Linked DNA regions of Homo sapiens. The protein of the gene in region 1 purifies or fractionates together with the protein of each later gene. This does not show direct contact. Each region holds a gene or a part of one and is shown in the gene's direction. Other genes may lie near its edges.

Evidence for each region. The genes of interacting proteins can lie anywhere in the genome.
Region 2: the proteins of GCSH (region 1) and ACSF2 fractionate together in Homo sapiens (co-fractionation; one large-scale study listed by BioGRID). This does not show direct contact.
Region 3: the proteins of GCSH (region 1) and SUCLG1 fractionate together in Homo sapiens (co-fractionation; one large-scale study listed by BioGRID). This does not show direct contact.
Region 4: the proteins of GCSH (region 1) and GSTO1 fractionate together in Homo sapiens (co-fractionation; one large-scale study listed by BioGRID). This does not show direct contact.

What each region holds. Positions count from the first base shown.
Region 1 is NC_000016.10:81,089,896-81,093,395, reverse strand, and holds part of GCSH (glycine cleavage system H protein, mitochondrial precursor), read left to right. Parts: exon of another isoform or gene 1-2,305; coding exon of another isoform or gene 2,306-2,399; intron 2,400-2,715; coding exon 2,716-2,795; intron 2,796-3,500. UniProt on the Homo sapiens protein: The glycine cleavage system catalyzes the degradation of glycine. The H protein (GCSH) shuttles the methylamine group of glycine from the P protein (GLDC) to the T protein (GCST).
Region 2 is NC_000017.11:50,432,718-50,436,217, forward strand, and holds part of ACSF2 (medium-chain acyl-CoA ligase ACSF2, mitochondrial isoform 2 precursor), read left to right. Parts: intron 1-3,500. UniProt on the Homo sapiens protein: Acyl-CoA synthases catalyze the initial reaction in fatty acid metabolism, by forming a thioester with CoA. Has some preference toward medium-chain substrates. Plays a role in adipocyte differentiation.
Region 3 is NC_000002.12:84,431,781-84,435,280, reverse strand, and holds part of SUCLG1 (succinate--CoA ligase [ADP/GDP-forming] subunit alpha, mitochondrial precursor), read left to right. Parts: intron 1-1,845; coding exon 1,846-1,929; intron 1,930-3,500. UniProt on the Homo sapiens protein: Succinyl-CoA synthetase functions in the citric acid cycle (TCA), coupling the hydrolysis of succinyl-CoA to the synthesis of either ATP or GTP and thus represents the only step of substrate-level phosphorylation in the TCA.
Region 4 is NC_000010.11:104,261,392-104,264,891, forward strand, and holds part of GSTO1 (glutathione S-transferase omega-1), read left to right. Parts: intron 1-1,587; coding exon 1,588-1,686; intron 1,687-3,500. UniProt on the Homo sapiens protein: Exhibits glutathione-dependent thiol transferase and dehydroascorbate reductase activities. Has S-(phenacyl)glutathione reductase activity. Also has glutathione S-transferase activity.

The sequences.
Region 1 (3,500 bases):
GCAGCCTTACTCCTAAAATTATCTTCACAGGTAGGCAAGATGGCAAGGTCAAAGAAGGTAGTCTCAGGTGGTGTTTATAGTTGTCCAGTGCTTACTTTGAAAAGGTGTTTTAGCTTCAAACTGCTCATAATTGGCATATAACCGGCGATTTGTAGCAGAGTGAGAGAATTAAGTGTTAAAGACAAATAACTATATACTATCTATTTTCCTCAGAATCCTCTTAATAAACTTTAAAAAATCACGTCATTCTGCAACTTTTTTTTTTTTTTTTTGGAGATGAAGTTTCGCTAGTCGCCCAGGCAATGGTGCAATCTCGGCTCACTGGAATCTCCGCCTCCCAGGTTCAAGTGATTCTCCTGCCTCAGCCTCCCAAGTAGCTAGGATTATAGGCGTGTACCACTACACCTGGCTAATTTTTGTATTTTTAGTAGGGACTTGGTTTCACCATGCTGGCCAGGCTGGTCTTGACCTCCTTACGTCAGGTGATCCGCCTGCCTTGGCCTCCCAAAGTGCTGGGATTGCAGGCATGAGCCACTGTGCCCGGCCTGCAACATGATAATTTAAGGGGAAAAATATATATATTTTTCTCCCAAAGTGTTGAGATTACAGGCATGAGCCACCACGCCCAGGGATTTTTTTTGTTTGTTTTTTTTGAGACTGAGTCTTGCTCTGTTGCTTAGGCTGGAGTGCAGTGGCGTGATCTCAGCTCACTGCAACCTCTGCCTCCTGGGTTCAAGCAATTCTCATGCCTCAGCTTCCCAAGTCGCTGGCATTACAGGAGTGTGCCACCACACCTGGCTAATTTTTGTATTTTTTTAGTAGAGATGTGGTTTCACTATGCTGGCCAGGCTGGTCTCAAACCCCGGACCTCAGGTGATCCACCCGCCTCGGCCTCCCAAAGTGCTGGGATTACACGCATGAGTCACTGTGCCTGGCCTGCGACATGATAATTTAAGGAAAAAAAAAATTATTTCATTCCTTCAGCTTTTGAGTGCTTGCTATGTGGCAAGCACTGTATTTAAAATTGGGAAAACAAATGAAAATAAGATAAACCTTGCTGTTTCTTGGTGGGTACACAGCCTACTTCCTGGGGAGACTGACAGATGATCTCTAGTATGTTCAGCACCGTGTGTGTGCTGGGGGATAGTGGTACAGGGTGCCGTAAGAGCATGTTGGCTGGCCTAAGAACCTAGACTTGGTTAGACAAGCCTTTGGGCAGGAACGGACTTCTGAATCTAGACCGGAAGTAGTTAGTAAAGATGGTAGGGAGAGTCTTTCAGTCAAAACACAGTGTACACATCTTAAACTTTCTTACCTGAACGTCAGAGTGACCTGAAACATTCAGTTCTTTGAAGTGGAATGAAGCAAAATAAATTTCTTAGTGACACATTTTTTGACTTCTTCCACTGAAGGGGTATGAACTTTAGAAAGTTTCATAATTAAGGGGAAAAGAAAGCAATATTGAATTATATACTTGGCTAGGCACGGTGGCTCACACACTATTATCCCAGCACTGTGAGAGGTTGAGGTGGGAGGATCATGAGCTCAGGAATTTGAGACCAGTCTGGACAACATAGACCCCCCCATCTCTACAAAAATAAAAAATAAAAATAATAATTATACACTCTACTTACGTTGTGCTGCGTATCAGAGCTGTAACCAAAGCAATTGAATGCTGTTTTAAGTACTACTATCCTTTGGGTAAGGGGTAAAATGAGCCAGTGAGGCCTCTTTAAAACAGTATTTGAGTTAACCATTTTTCTATGAACTTACGTTGCATTGTTTTTAGAAAAATACTTGGTGTCAGAATATGAACTGTATTTAATATAGCATATGCTTTTTAAAAAATATTATTCTCTAAGGCAAGTACTTTTAACTTTATATCCTAAATAACTCTTTTTACTCTTGAACATTGGCCGGTCCTTCTTTCAGGATTCCCTGAATCGTTTGACCGTATCTTTAGAGAAGTGCTCAGTAAGTCGAGGGCTGAACCTGTCCAGTGAGTGGTGAGCAGAGCTTGATTCTCCACCAACCCATGGCTTAGCTCTGAGAAGACTGTTGAGTTGTGATCTTAATTTTCTTCTTTAAGCGATGGTAGTGCTATCTTCAAGGTTAGGCTTGAATTTGATTAAAGTAGAATTTTAAGAACTTAGTCAAATTATAGTTGTTCCAGGAGGTCAGTTTCATTCCTGTAAAATTTTACTTTGTAACCCAAGCTGCACTGAAGCTCTCTTAGGTCAACTCTGCCTAAAGAGGCACCTGATTATTACTGTTATTTTTTTTTTTAGGTTAAATCATTTCTTATATGAGCCATCTTTATGCTGCCTCCCTAAACCTCATCACCCCAAATTTGTCTTCAGAGGCACAGATTTTTTTTTCTGCAAGACAGACCAGTAATAGTTAAGTATACATTTGAAATATGCTCCAAAATTTTCTTTTGTGATTTAGGCTAAGTAATGTTAAAGCAGATAATCCAATCTCCAAAAGATGCACAAGGTGTTCAGATGAAGCCATCTTTGCTTAAATGGTACTGCTGTTTAAATGCGTCATCTCTATACATGATCTTCATTCTTTCCTGAGCCATGCACTATTTAAAGGTAGTGTCAACAGGTCAAACAGAAATTCTGGGAAAGTCTTTTGAAAGCAATGGTAATGAAAAGTGCTTCTTAAGAAGTAATGCTACTGCTTTTCTGAAATGTTGGTCTTCTGTTTTAGTGCGTAAATTCACAGAGAAACACGAATGGGTAACAACAGAAAATGGCATTGGAACAGTGGGAATCAGCAATTTTGCACAGGTATTGGATTATATTGAAATATTTGTCCCAGTGTGCTCTTGCATGATTTGCTTTATCTCTACCTTTTTAAAAGTGTTTAGGCTGCGTGAGGTGGCTCATGCCTGTAATCCCAACACTTTGGGAGGCTGAGGCAGGAGGATTGCTTGAGGCCAGGAGTTCAAGACCAGCCTGGTCAACAAAGTGAGACCCCGTCTCTACCAAAAGTTAAAAAAAAAAATTAGCCTGGCATGGTTGCTCATGCCTGTGGTCCCAGCTACTCAGGAGGCTAAGGCAGGAGGGTCGCTGGAGCCCAGGAGGTTGAGGCTGCAGTGAACCATGATCATGTCACTGCAAAATACAAAAATTAGCTGGTCTTGGTGGTGCACACCTGTAATCCCAGCTCGTCAGGAGGCTGAGACAGAAGAATCACTTGAACCTGGGAGGCAGAAGTTGCAGTAAGCCGAGATTGCACCACTACACTCTAGCCTGGGTGACAGAGTGAGACTCCATCTCCAAAAAAAAAAAGAAAGAAAGAAAGTAAGAAAACCAACCAGAGTTGAATTAAGTAAAACATAATTTAGTTAGGGCATTATGTGGTGTTTTAAGAGATGTTGCAAGCTTAACACTGAAAGTAGGAAACATGTCCTATTCAAGAAGGAAATGTGTGTGTTTTGTACTGGGCAATTAAGGAAAGAGGAAAAAGAAGAGCAGGGTGTTGCCACCATT
Region 2 (3,500 bases), on another chromosome or scaffold:
CCTCCATTTGGGAGTTAGTTGACGGGAAAGCAAATCCCAGTCCTACCAGTCCTAACTTAGTGTGGCTTTAGGCAAGTTACTGAACCTCCGCAGACCTTAGTTTGTTTGTAAAATAGGCTGTTTGGACAAGATGTGCTCTACCTTTGGGAGAAGATTCTGTGATTCCTAAAGAGGCTGGAGTTTGAGCCTGATCCCTAAACCCAATAAGGCTGTGATTTGAAGTATGCAGCCTTCATACGTGTGTGAAATTTCACTTGGTCTCTTATGAACCCTGAGTATGCAGCTTCCTAACCTGACATTCTGTAATTCTGTAGTCCCCTGAGCAAAAAGAAGCATCAAGTTTTGTTTTATACACACACACGCACACACACACTTAAATATGTTTTTCTTTTTCTTTTTTTTTTTTTTGAGACGGAGTCTCGCACTATCACCAGGCTGGAGTACAGTGGCGCGATCTGGGCTCACTGTAACCTCCGCCTCCTGGGTTCAGCAATTCTCCTGCCTCAGCCTCCCAAGTAGCTGGGATTACAGACACCTGCCACCACGCCCAGCTAATTTTTTGTATTTTTAGTGGAGATGGGGTTTCACTATGTTGGCCAGGCTGGTCTCAAACTCCTGACCTCGTGATCCGCCTGCCTTGGCCTTCCAAAATGCTGGGATTACTGGACTCAAACAATCCTACTTCCTCAGCCTCCTGAGTAGCTGGGATTACAAGCACAAACCACCATGTGCACCTGGCTACCTCAAAGGTTTTCTTCCTAGAAAACTAATATCTAGCCTTGTATGTATTTTAGTAATCCTATCAAGGGACAAGTGTCTTGACTCAGCCCCCATCCCTGATTCCTAGGCACTCTTCTCCTGGGGTCTCTGTCCAGCTATTCCAAAAGAAAACCTGCAGCATGGATGCCTCCTGACTCCAAGTATTTCAGGCTACTCTGTCACCTGGGATGGAGTGCAGTGGCGTGATCACGGCTCACTGTAGCCTTGACCTCCCAGTCTCAGGTGATGTGCCCACCTCTGCCTCCCAAATAGCTGGGATTACAGGTGTGTACCACCATGCCTTGCTAAATTTTTTGTATTTTGTTTTGGTAGAGACAGATTTCCACTTTGTTGCCCCAGGTGGTCTCAAACTGCTGGGCTCAAGCGATCCTCCCAACTCAGCCTCCCAAAGTGCTGGGATTACAGGTGTGACCCACCGCACTGGCCCTTCTATGTCTTCTTGAGAGAGTTTTCTAAACCCAAATTATCACTTCTTATGTATTTTCTGTACATACTTACAAACACACCAGTGGTTCCATTCAAGATGCTGAAAATGGGCCAGGCACAGTGGCTCACACCTATAACTCAGCACTTTGGGAGGCTGAGGTGGGAGGATCGCTTGAGCCCAGAAGTTTGAGACCAGCCTGGGCAACATAGGGAGACCCCATCTCTACAGATAATACTTTTTACAAATTAGTTGGGTGTGGTGGCATGTGCTTGTGGTTCCAGCTTCCTGGGGGACTGAGGCAGGAGGATTGCTTGAGCCCAGGAAGTCGAGGCTGCAGTGAGCCGTGATCATGCCACCACACTCTAGCCTCAGTGACAGGGTGAGAGCATGTCTCAAATAATAATAATAATAATAACAAAACAAGATGCTGAGAATGGAAGCTTCCACCAATATAGAGTATCTTGTTCAAAATCTTTACTGGGCTGGGTGCGGTGGCTCATGCCTGCAATCCCAGCACTTTGGGAGGCTGAGGCAGGTGGATCACCTGAGGTCAGGAGTTCAAGACCAGCCTGGCCAACATGACGAAAACCCATCTCTACTAAAAATACAAAATTAGCTGGGCATGGTGGCATGCACCTGTAATCCCAGCTACTCGGGAGGCTGAGGCAGGAGAATCTCTTGAACCCAGTGGGTGGAGGTTGCAGTGATCCGAGATAGCACCACCTCATTCCAGCCTGGGCAAAAGAGCAAAACTCCGTCTCAAAAAAATAATTTTTTTTTTTTTTACTGTAGTCCTTACTAGTCTTTGTAGTCGTTTGTAGTTTGTTCTTTGTAGTTGGTATTTTTCAGAGGTCACATACTCCTCAGGGTGGTTATGTCGAGTGGTAGAAAGATCATGGGGCTTTATGATATAATTACATACAGTAAACTGCACAGATCTTTTTTTTTTCTTTTTTTTATTTTGAGACAGAGTTTCACTGTTGTTGCCCAGGCTGGAGTGCAATGGCGCAATCTTGGCTCATCACAACCTCCGCCTCCCAGGTTCATGCGATTCTCCTGCCTCAGCCTCCCAAGTAGCTGGGATTACCCGCATGTGCCACCACGCCTGACTTATTTTGTATTTTTAGTAGAGATGGGATTTCTCCATGTTGGTCAAGCTGGTCTCAAACTCCCGACCTCAGGTGATTTGCCCGTCTCGGCCTCCCAAAGTGCTGGGATTACAGGCGTGAGCCACCGTGCCTGGCCTGTGTCTGGCTTTTTTTGCTCAGAAGCCAAGGAGTGCTTTTGGGAGGAGCAGCTCATTAACCTTGACAAAAACTCACAAAAGTGAGTTTTACGTATTAAACAGCTCAATGTTTCAGAGTTCTGTATGTATTCTAGTATTATTCCTTTGTCAGACATGTGGCTTACAAATGTTTTTCCCCACTTTGTAGCTTTTTTTCATCCTCTTAAAAGGGTCTTTTGCAGAGCAAAATTTTTTAATCCTTTTTTTTTTTTAATTTTTTGAGAAAGGCCTCACTCTGTCACCCTGGCTGGAGCACAGTGGTGCAACCACGGCTCAGTGCAGCCTCAACCTCCTGGGCTCAAGTGATCCTCCTGCCTCAGCCTTCCAAGTACGTAGGACTATGGGTACACGCCACAAAGCCCAGCTAATTTAAAAAATTTTTTCATAGAGATGGATGGCACTGTGTTGCCTAGGCTGGTCTCCAACTCCTGTGCTCAAGTGATTTTCCCACCTCAGCCTCCCAAAGTGCTAAGATTACTTTACAGACGTGAGCCACTATGCCCAGCCCATATAGCAATTTAAAAAAATTTTTTTATAAAGTCTAATTTATTAAGTCTAGTTTATAAAGTCTAGTTTAGTGAGTTTTTTTTTTTAGATGGGATCTCATTATGTTGCCCAGGCTGGTCTCCAACTCCTCGGTTCAAGCAATTCTCCTGCCTCAGCCTCCCAAGTAGCTAGGATTACAGGTGCATGCCACTGCACCCAGCGCTCAGTGAGTGTTTTTTTTTGTTGTTTGTTTGTTTTTAATGGATCTTGCTTTTGGTGTCAAGCCTAATAACTTTTTGCCTAGCTCTAGATCCAGAAGATTTTATAATTTTTTTTTACACTTAAGTCTGATTCATTTTATTTTTGCTTATATAGAATGTGAGACTTAGTCAGAGTTCATTTTTGTTGTTGTTGTTGTTGTTATTTTTTATTTTTTTTATTTTTTATTTTTCGAGACGGAGTCTCGCTCTGTTGCCCAGGCTGGAGTGCAGTGGCGCGATCTCGGCTCACTGCAACCTCCGC
Region 3 (3,500 bases), on another chromosome or scaffold:
CAGGAAAGACCTCAAAGAGAAAGTAGCATTTAATGTGGACCTTGAAGGATGATTAGAAGTTTTGTCAGATGGTGGAGGTGAAACACTCCATCTTAAGCAGAACAAATATGAAAAGATAGGAGAGCATGAAATATCAATGAGGAATAACCCAGTTTCACTAGGTAGGGAAATAGTAAGAAACAAGTCTGGAGAGGGAAGCTGGGACTCTGCTGGGCTGGCGAGTTAGAGCAGAGTTCCACGTGAAGTGAGGCATCGTCGAGGATTTAGTTGTCACTGTCTAGTGAAATGCATCTAAAAGAGCAATCTGACAGTGTTCTGTAGGGTCTGCTTAGCAATGACTAAGTTACGTACACACCATTCTTTGAATTTGACTTTGAATTTGGTATGTAGAACCTGAAGTTATTGTGTGCCCAAATTCATAGTGAGAAGATGTGTTTATGCATAGGTCACACACTTAGTACGCATTAGTATACAATAATGGTGACATAGCACTTTGTTTAAGAGTGTAAACATGTAGCACGGAAGTTGAGGTAACTTATAGTTATGGTTTTTGTCTCAGGTTGACAAGAATTCTACCTGCCCTGGTAGGGTGATCATATTGTTAGAAAAGGGTCTTCTGAGTTCTTCAGAGTTGCTCCAAGGCAGGAGTTTAAGGAAAGTAAACCATGGACACCCTGGATTAATTTTTTTGTTTGTCTAAAGTATTACATAGATTGTGGCTTTGAATAAATTACCTTTCTGGAAGCTCAGCCAAGCATAGTAAACTACAAGAGAAGACATCTAACTGTCACTCCTCCCTGGCCCCCACTGGCTCTCCTCCCTCGGCGCACACCTAATCCAGATGTGAAATTAAGTGCTTTCACACAGGTCCATTTATAAAGGAAATTAGGTGGGAGACTTGATTCCAGAGGGATCTTGACCTTATTCCCCAGTTTTCTTTATATTGATTTTAAAGCCTATATATTGGTTGAAAATCATTGGGAAAATAGTTGTGGAGAAGATAGGTAGTATTTTAAAATGTGACTAATGCTAGTTTTGATGGTTTAATAGTTTGGGTACTGTATTATTCTGTTTTATATTGCTACAAAGGAATATCTGAGCCTGGATGATTTATAAGTAAAAGAGATTTGTTTGGCTTATGATTCTGCAGGCTATACATGCATGGTGCTAGCATCTGTTCAGCTTCTGGTGAGGCCTCAGGAATCTTTTACTCATGGCAGAAGGTGAAGGGGGAGTAGACGTGTCACATGGTGAGAGAGGGAATGAGAGAGGCCAGGATCTTTTCAAGAACCAGCTCTCATGTAAAGGAACAGAGTGAGAACTCACTCATTACCATGGAGAGGTCACTAAGCCATTCATGAAGGATCTATCCCCATGACCCAAACACCTCCCACCGGGCCCCACCTCCAACACTGGGCATCACATTTCAACCTGAGATTTGGAGGGGACAAATACCCAGACTACATAAGGTAGTATAAGTCTAATCTATTACATTCTGCCACTGTAGGTATGATTAGTACCTACCAAATTTATACTGATACTAGCTTCTTCATAAAGATTCTCAGAAGAGGTAATTTAAGTCTTTCTTGCATTGTTTTTATAGTCATAAAATAACCTTAACTAATAATATACTTTCTCCTTTGTCTAAATTAAAAAACCCCCCTGCTTGAATTTAAGCCTTTCCTTTTCATTTCATCGTTTGAAGATACTATTGATTTTGATGGCAAATCATGGAATGAATTTTATACCTATGTTAGTCACTCGAAGTGTTTGGTAATTTAGTTTACCATGTTTTAGTCTAACATAGAAACACAATCTAATATTTTTGAATTCTCTTTCGTTAAGGCATTGTGTCCAGATCTGGCACCCTGACTTATGAAGCAGTTCACCAAACAACGCAAGTTGGATTGGGGCAGTCTTTGTGCGTTGGTGAGGGACTTTTGCTAAAATCATTTTATTGGAGTGTGGTGTCTTCATTGGATGAGTATAATAATAATTATTGATTTTATTATTTGCAAAAGATTTTGATACTCTTATGAAAAGGATGTTACGATCTCAAATTTAATTTGCTTAAGTGTAAAGTTATTCTGTAGTTGTTTCAAGATTCATGGTCCAAGATTTCATTTCTAGGTTGAAGAACTAACATCTTGGAACACGTGGCTCCCGAAGCACCTTGGTGCCTGAAAACATCACTTGGTTTGATTGCTCTGAAGAAATGGTTCCTTATATTAGGACTTTTGTTATCATTGCCATTATGTTCATCAGTGCTTTATAGTTACTGAATTCTTTGCCATTCAGTGTCTCATTCTTGAGGGAAGCCTCTCAGGTGCCTCTGAGCTGGAAAATTGTACTGTTAGAGCCTTATTGGTGAGAAAGTCAAGGTTGAGGAAGGTTCATTTCCTCAGAACCTCTCTTTTTATCACACTATACTGCCTCCCATTTGAAAAAGTAAAAATTACAAATTTTTACATTTTAAAATAATTTCATTATTTGTTGCCAAAAGCCAAGGCAAATTCCTCCTTTTCATATTAATAAATATTCTTTCAAGTTCTTAGAATACCTGTTAATGTTTTAGAATTATCTTTACGAAAAAGTAACATATAGCTCTGGAGTGTTTTTATTAAGATTCAAATTCATAAATTAAATATTGAAAACATTAATTGAGCATTTGTACATGCAAAGCACAATATAAGTGGAAGATACTTTTTAGTGTGACAGAGAATAAGAAAAGGTTTGAAACAGGCTTACCGATTCCTTCTTTTCCAGCTTCAGTTTTGAATTTGTAAGTGGAGGATAATAATGCCTATCTCACAGAGAAGTTGAGAAAATTAGGAAATGACAGATCTAACGTGTGCCAAAGCATAGGACTTGACACACGGTTGGCACTTAATAAATGCCGGTTCTCTTCTTCCACTCCATTTTTCAGAGATGCAGTGAAAAGAAAGAAATCAATCCTGCCCTCAGTAAGTTTGTAATTTAAAAATAAAAAACGGCAGCCTGTCTGTAGGGAACATTTACTTTAACCCTGTCCATGAATTTGTTCTTAAATGTGGTGTGTAGTATGGCTCTGATATGCATGCTCTGTCATCATCCACTCTGGATCCAGAACACGAGCAGTCAGGGTACTCACTGTCACTCACTGGCACTTGTGTCTTAAAACTTGTGGGTGATTTATCTGCAGCATACTTCATCAAATAGTTTCTTTACTCAAAGAAATTTGTTAAATGTTTATTCTTTCCTCTGGTGTAACATCAGCATGCAACACAGATACACATTTTCTTAAAATGTTCATTTCTAAGGAGTTATCTGGGAATAATTTTGTGGGACAGAAGAGGCTTGATAAAGGAGCTAAAACAAAAAGAGGGTTGTCTTCGTTACAGCCCTAGAATATTCCTAGAATATCAGGAACCAACCACCATTTAGCATTTATATAATATTACCAACAGAAATAAATGTAGCATTTTGTGATTTTTTAAATATTAAATGCAAGAGCAATGATA
Region 4 (3,500 bases), on another chromosome or scaffold:
CAGCCCATCAGAACAGAAATGTACCCCACCCCACACACCTGGGCCAGTTATCTTCTCTCCTGGGAACTTGGAAATGAGACACAGAACTAAGACAGTAAAGGTTAGGACAGTAAAGACAACTAAGCGTTGGGGCTCAAATAATGTTAATTAGAGGCTAGAAAAACCAAAGCCACTTAAGAAATAAATTTTTAGAGGAGCAAGAATTAAAAACATTGCAAAGGGACTGAAGTATGCAAAGTAATATGGAGCAGAAATGTGAGGAAAAACAGACGAAAGACCAGGCAGACCCAGGTGGAAATGTGGATGAAAGGGCTGCCTGAAAGCCTTCAGTCCCAGTGAAGGCAGGCTGAACTGATGTGGATGGGATTTCATGGGATTCTATATTTTTACAAGTGCCTGTTTACTTAAACTAGGATGAGTGGACTTCTGCGTCTTGCAATAAAATGATACCAAAGACCAAAGTATTAAAACACATAAACACCATCACGAGCATTAAAGCATCTGATGCTACACCCATCAAGTCTTTAGGTAGTCGGTCCCTTTTGAACAGTCTCCTGGTGTCCTCCCCAACAAAGAAATCAGAAAAATTTTCTTCCCTAGCTCTTTGCAGTTGGGGCCAAGTTTTGTGACCTAGGCTCTTCCTGTCAGACACACACATAGAGTTCAAATCAGAAACGAGCAAGGTAAGGAAACAGGCTTGGTGGGATATCTGCTTAAGATATTCAGCTCTCCACTGGTTTTCCTGGTGAGAGCAGCGGCAGAGCTTCTGGGTTTCAGCAGTGTGGGTTACAAGATAAAATTCCAGAGTAGAAATGGCATCAGTGCCAGTGGTGTTAGCAGTTATCTCAGACTCTACTTTCTGGCAGCCTCACAAACTGAAGCATCTGGTGCTCAGCTTGGACTGGCAGCAGTGAGTGCTTCCCATTAGGCCATTTCTCAGCATGAATTTGGGATGTTCTGTCTTAATTCCAAGCCTGTTTGTTCCGCCTCCCAATAATTCTATGAGCCACTCAGTCTCCTTTAAAGAAAGTTGTGTTGGCCGGGCGTGGTGGCTCAAGCCTGTAATCCCAGCACTTTGGGAGGCTGAGGCAGATGGATCACCTGAGGTCAGGAGTTTTCAGACCAGCCTGGCCAATATGGTGAATCCCCATCTCTACTAAAAATACAAAAATTAGCCTGGCGTGGTGGCGCACGCCCATAATCTCAGCTACTAAGGAGGCGGAGACAGGAGAATTGCTTGAGCCCGGGCAGTGGAGGTTGCAGTGAGCTGAGATCGTGCCACTGCATTCCAGCCTGGGTGATAGAGCATGACTCCATTTCAAAAAAGAAAGAAAGTTGTTTCTTAAACGTGCCAGGGTAGCTTCTGTTATTTGTAATTTATAAAATCCTGACCAAGCCAGCATTTTAGGCCACAAAACTGTTCCTAAGACCAGTCCATTACCTCTGTGAGCGCAGGAACTTGATGCACCCTTGGTGTTTCTAGAACACCTTGACACCAGGACTGTAAGGGTTCTACCATATTTTTATGTGAGGGGGCCGATACAGTTAGCCATAAACTGATAAACTAAGAAATTATTCTCTGTCTAGGTGCCATCCTTGGTAGGAAGCTTTATTAGAAGCCAAAATAAAGAAGACTATGCTGGCCTAAAAGAAGAATTTCGTAAAGAATTTACCAAGCTAGAGGAGGTAATTATTTCTCCTAGCTATCATCAGAGTAAACGATAACTATATCTACCCTCCTTTTCCTCCTATTCTTTTCTTTATATTCCCACTTTCCAAGTCACTTTAAGGTAATTAGGAAAATTCCCCTAAACATTTTTGTTTACAGCAGACTGCTGTTATAAAGCAGAAAGCTGTCCTGCTTAAGATATAAATCAAAACACCTAAACAGACTTTGTCATGGGCTTGCTTTTAAAATATTCTGCTAATGTTAAAATAACAAGGAAAAAGGAAATTGTACCCACGTTTCCACAAGTTTTTATGTATCCAGTTTTCCATGCTTGTTTGCAGTCCTTGTCCATATATTTAAAAAAAATTAATATAGCTCTAATCAGAGCATAGATATCATTCTGTGTCCTGCTTTTTTTCCTGTGTCCACTTAGTATTACATACTAAATATTTCCCACCAGAAAAAGTTTGCAATGAACAGTACAGACACTTGAGGGAAGCCCAGATGTATTTTACCTTCTTTTGGGGACAGCTGACATTTGGGCCTTGGAGTCTGTCTCTTGGCCTTGAAATATTTCATTCATGCTAAGCCTGAAGTTTTTACTGACAGAAGACATAGTTCCTGTCTTTCATGGGAATGCATTTTAACATTTTATCAGTAAGCATGATGTTTGCTGTAGGTTTTTCAGAAACCTTTTTTTCATTATAAAGTTCTCTTCTATTACTAGTTTGCTAATTTTTAAAAAAGTCATAAATGTTGAATTTTATTGAATGGTTTTTCTGCATCTGTTACATCTATTGAAATGTTCATAGAATTTTTTCCTCTTAATCTGGTGAATATGGTGCTATTGACAAATTTTTTTTTTTTTAATGTTTAACCATCCTAGCATTCCTAAGATAAAACCTACTTGTTCTCTATGGATTTTTATATGTACTGTAGAATTAGCTAATGAATGATTTTTGTATGTGTGTTCATAAATGAGATTGGCCTATAAATTTTCTACTCTTATAGTATCATTATTGGCTTTTGGTTTCAAGGATATTCTGACCTCATAAAATGAGTTGGGTAACTAACCTGTTTTTCTAATCTCTGAAACCATTTGGTAGGGACTAGCGGTTTCTTTAAAACATTTGAGCCTGGTGTCTTTAACAGGGGTAGATTTTTCATTACTAGTTTGATTTCTTTAATGGTAATTGGTTTTTTGGTTTTATATTTCTTCTTGAATCAGTGTTGGTACTTTTATATTTTTCTGCTGAACAGTGTGGGAGCTGGAAAGTAAGATGCAGTCCATATTCTTCAGATAATTAGTTTAGTAGTAGACAGAACACAGTAGGTAGATATAAGCAATCTAAAATGCATATTATGCATTGAAAAAAAACTATGGAGGTTATTTATAAAGGGCAAATTAGTTTGGTGGTTTAAATAGCCAGATAATATTCTCAATCACCCCCTTTGGCAAACCCTGTAACCAATTCGCCTTCTTAAAATTTCAGAAACATACAATTTGTGTTTTGTTTTCAAATGATTGTCATCTGTTTAGCAGTTAATCCAGTCTATTTCCAGTATATTTTAAGTACAAATGCTTTTGCACTTACAATGGGGTTACATCCAATAAACCCACCGTAAGCTGAAAATATCATAAGTGGAAAATGCATTTAATAAACCCAACCTACAGAGCATCATAGCTTAGCCTAGCCTGCTTTAAATGTGCTCAGAAAACTTCCATTAGCCTGCAATTAGGCAAAATCATCAAACATAAAACCATCAAACATAAAATATTTATAAAGTGTTGAATATCTCATATAATTTATCGAATACCTGCATCCAAAAG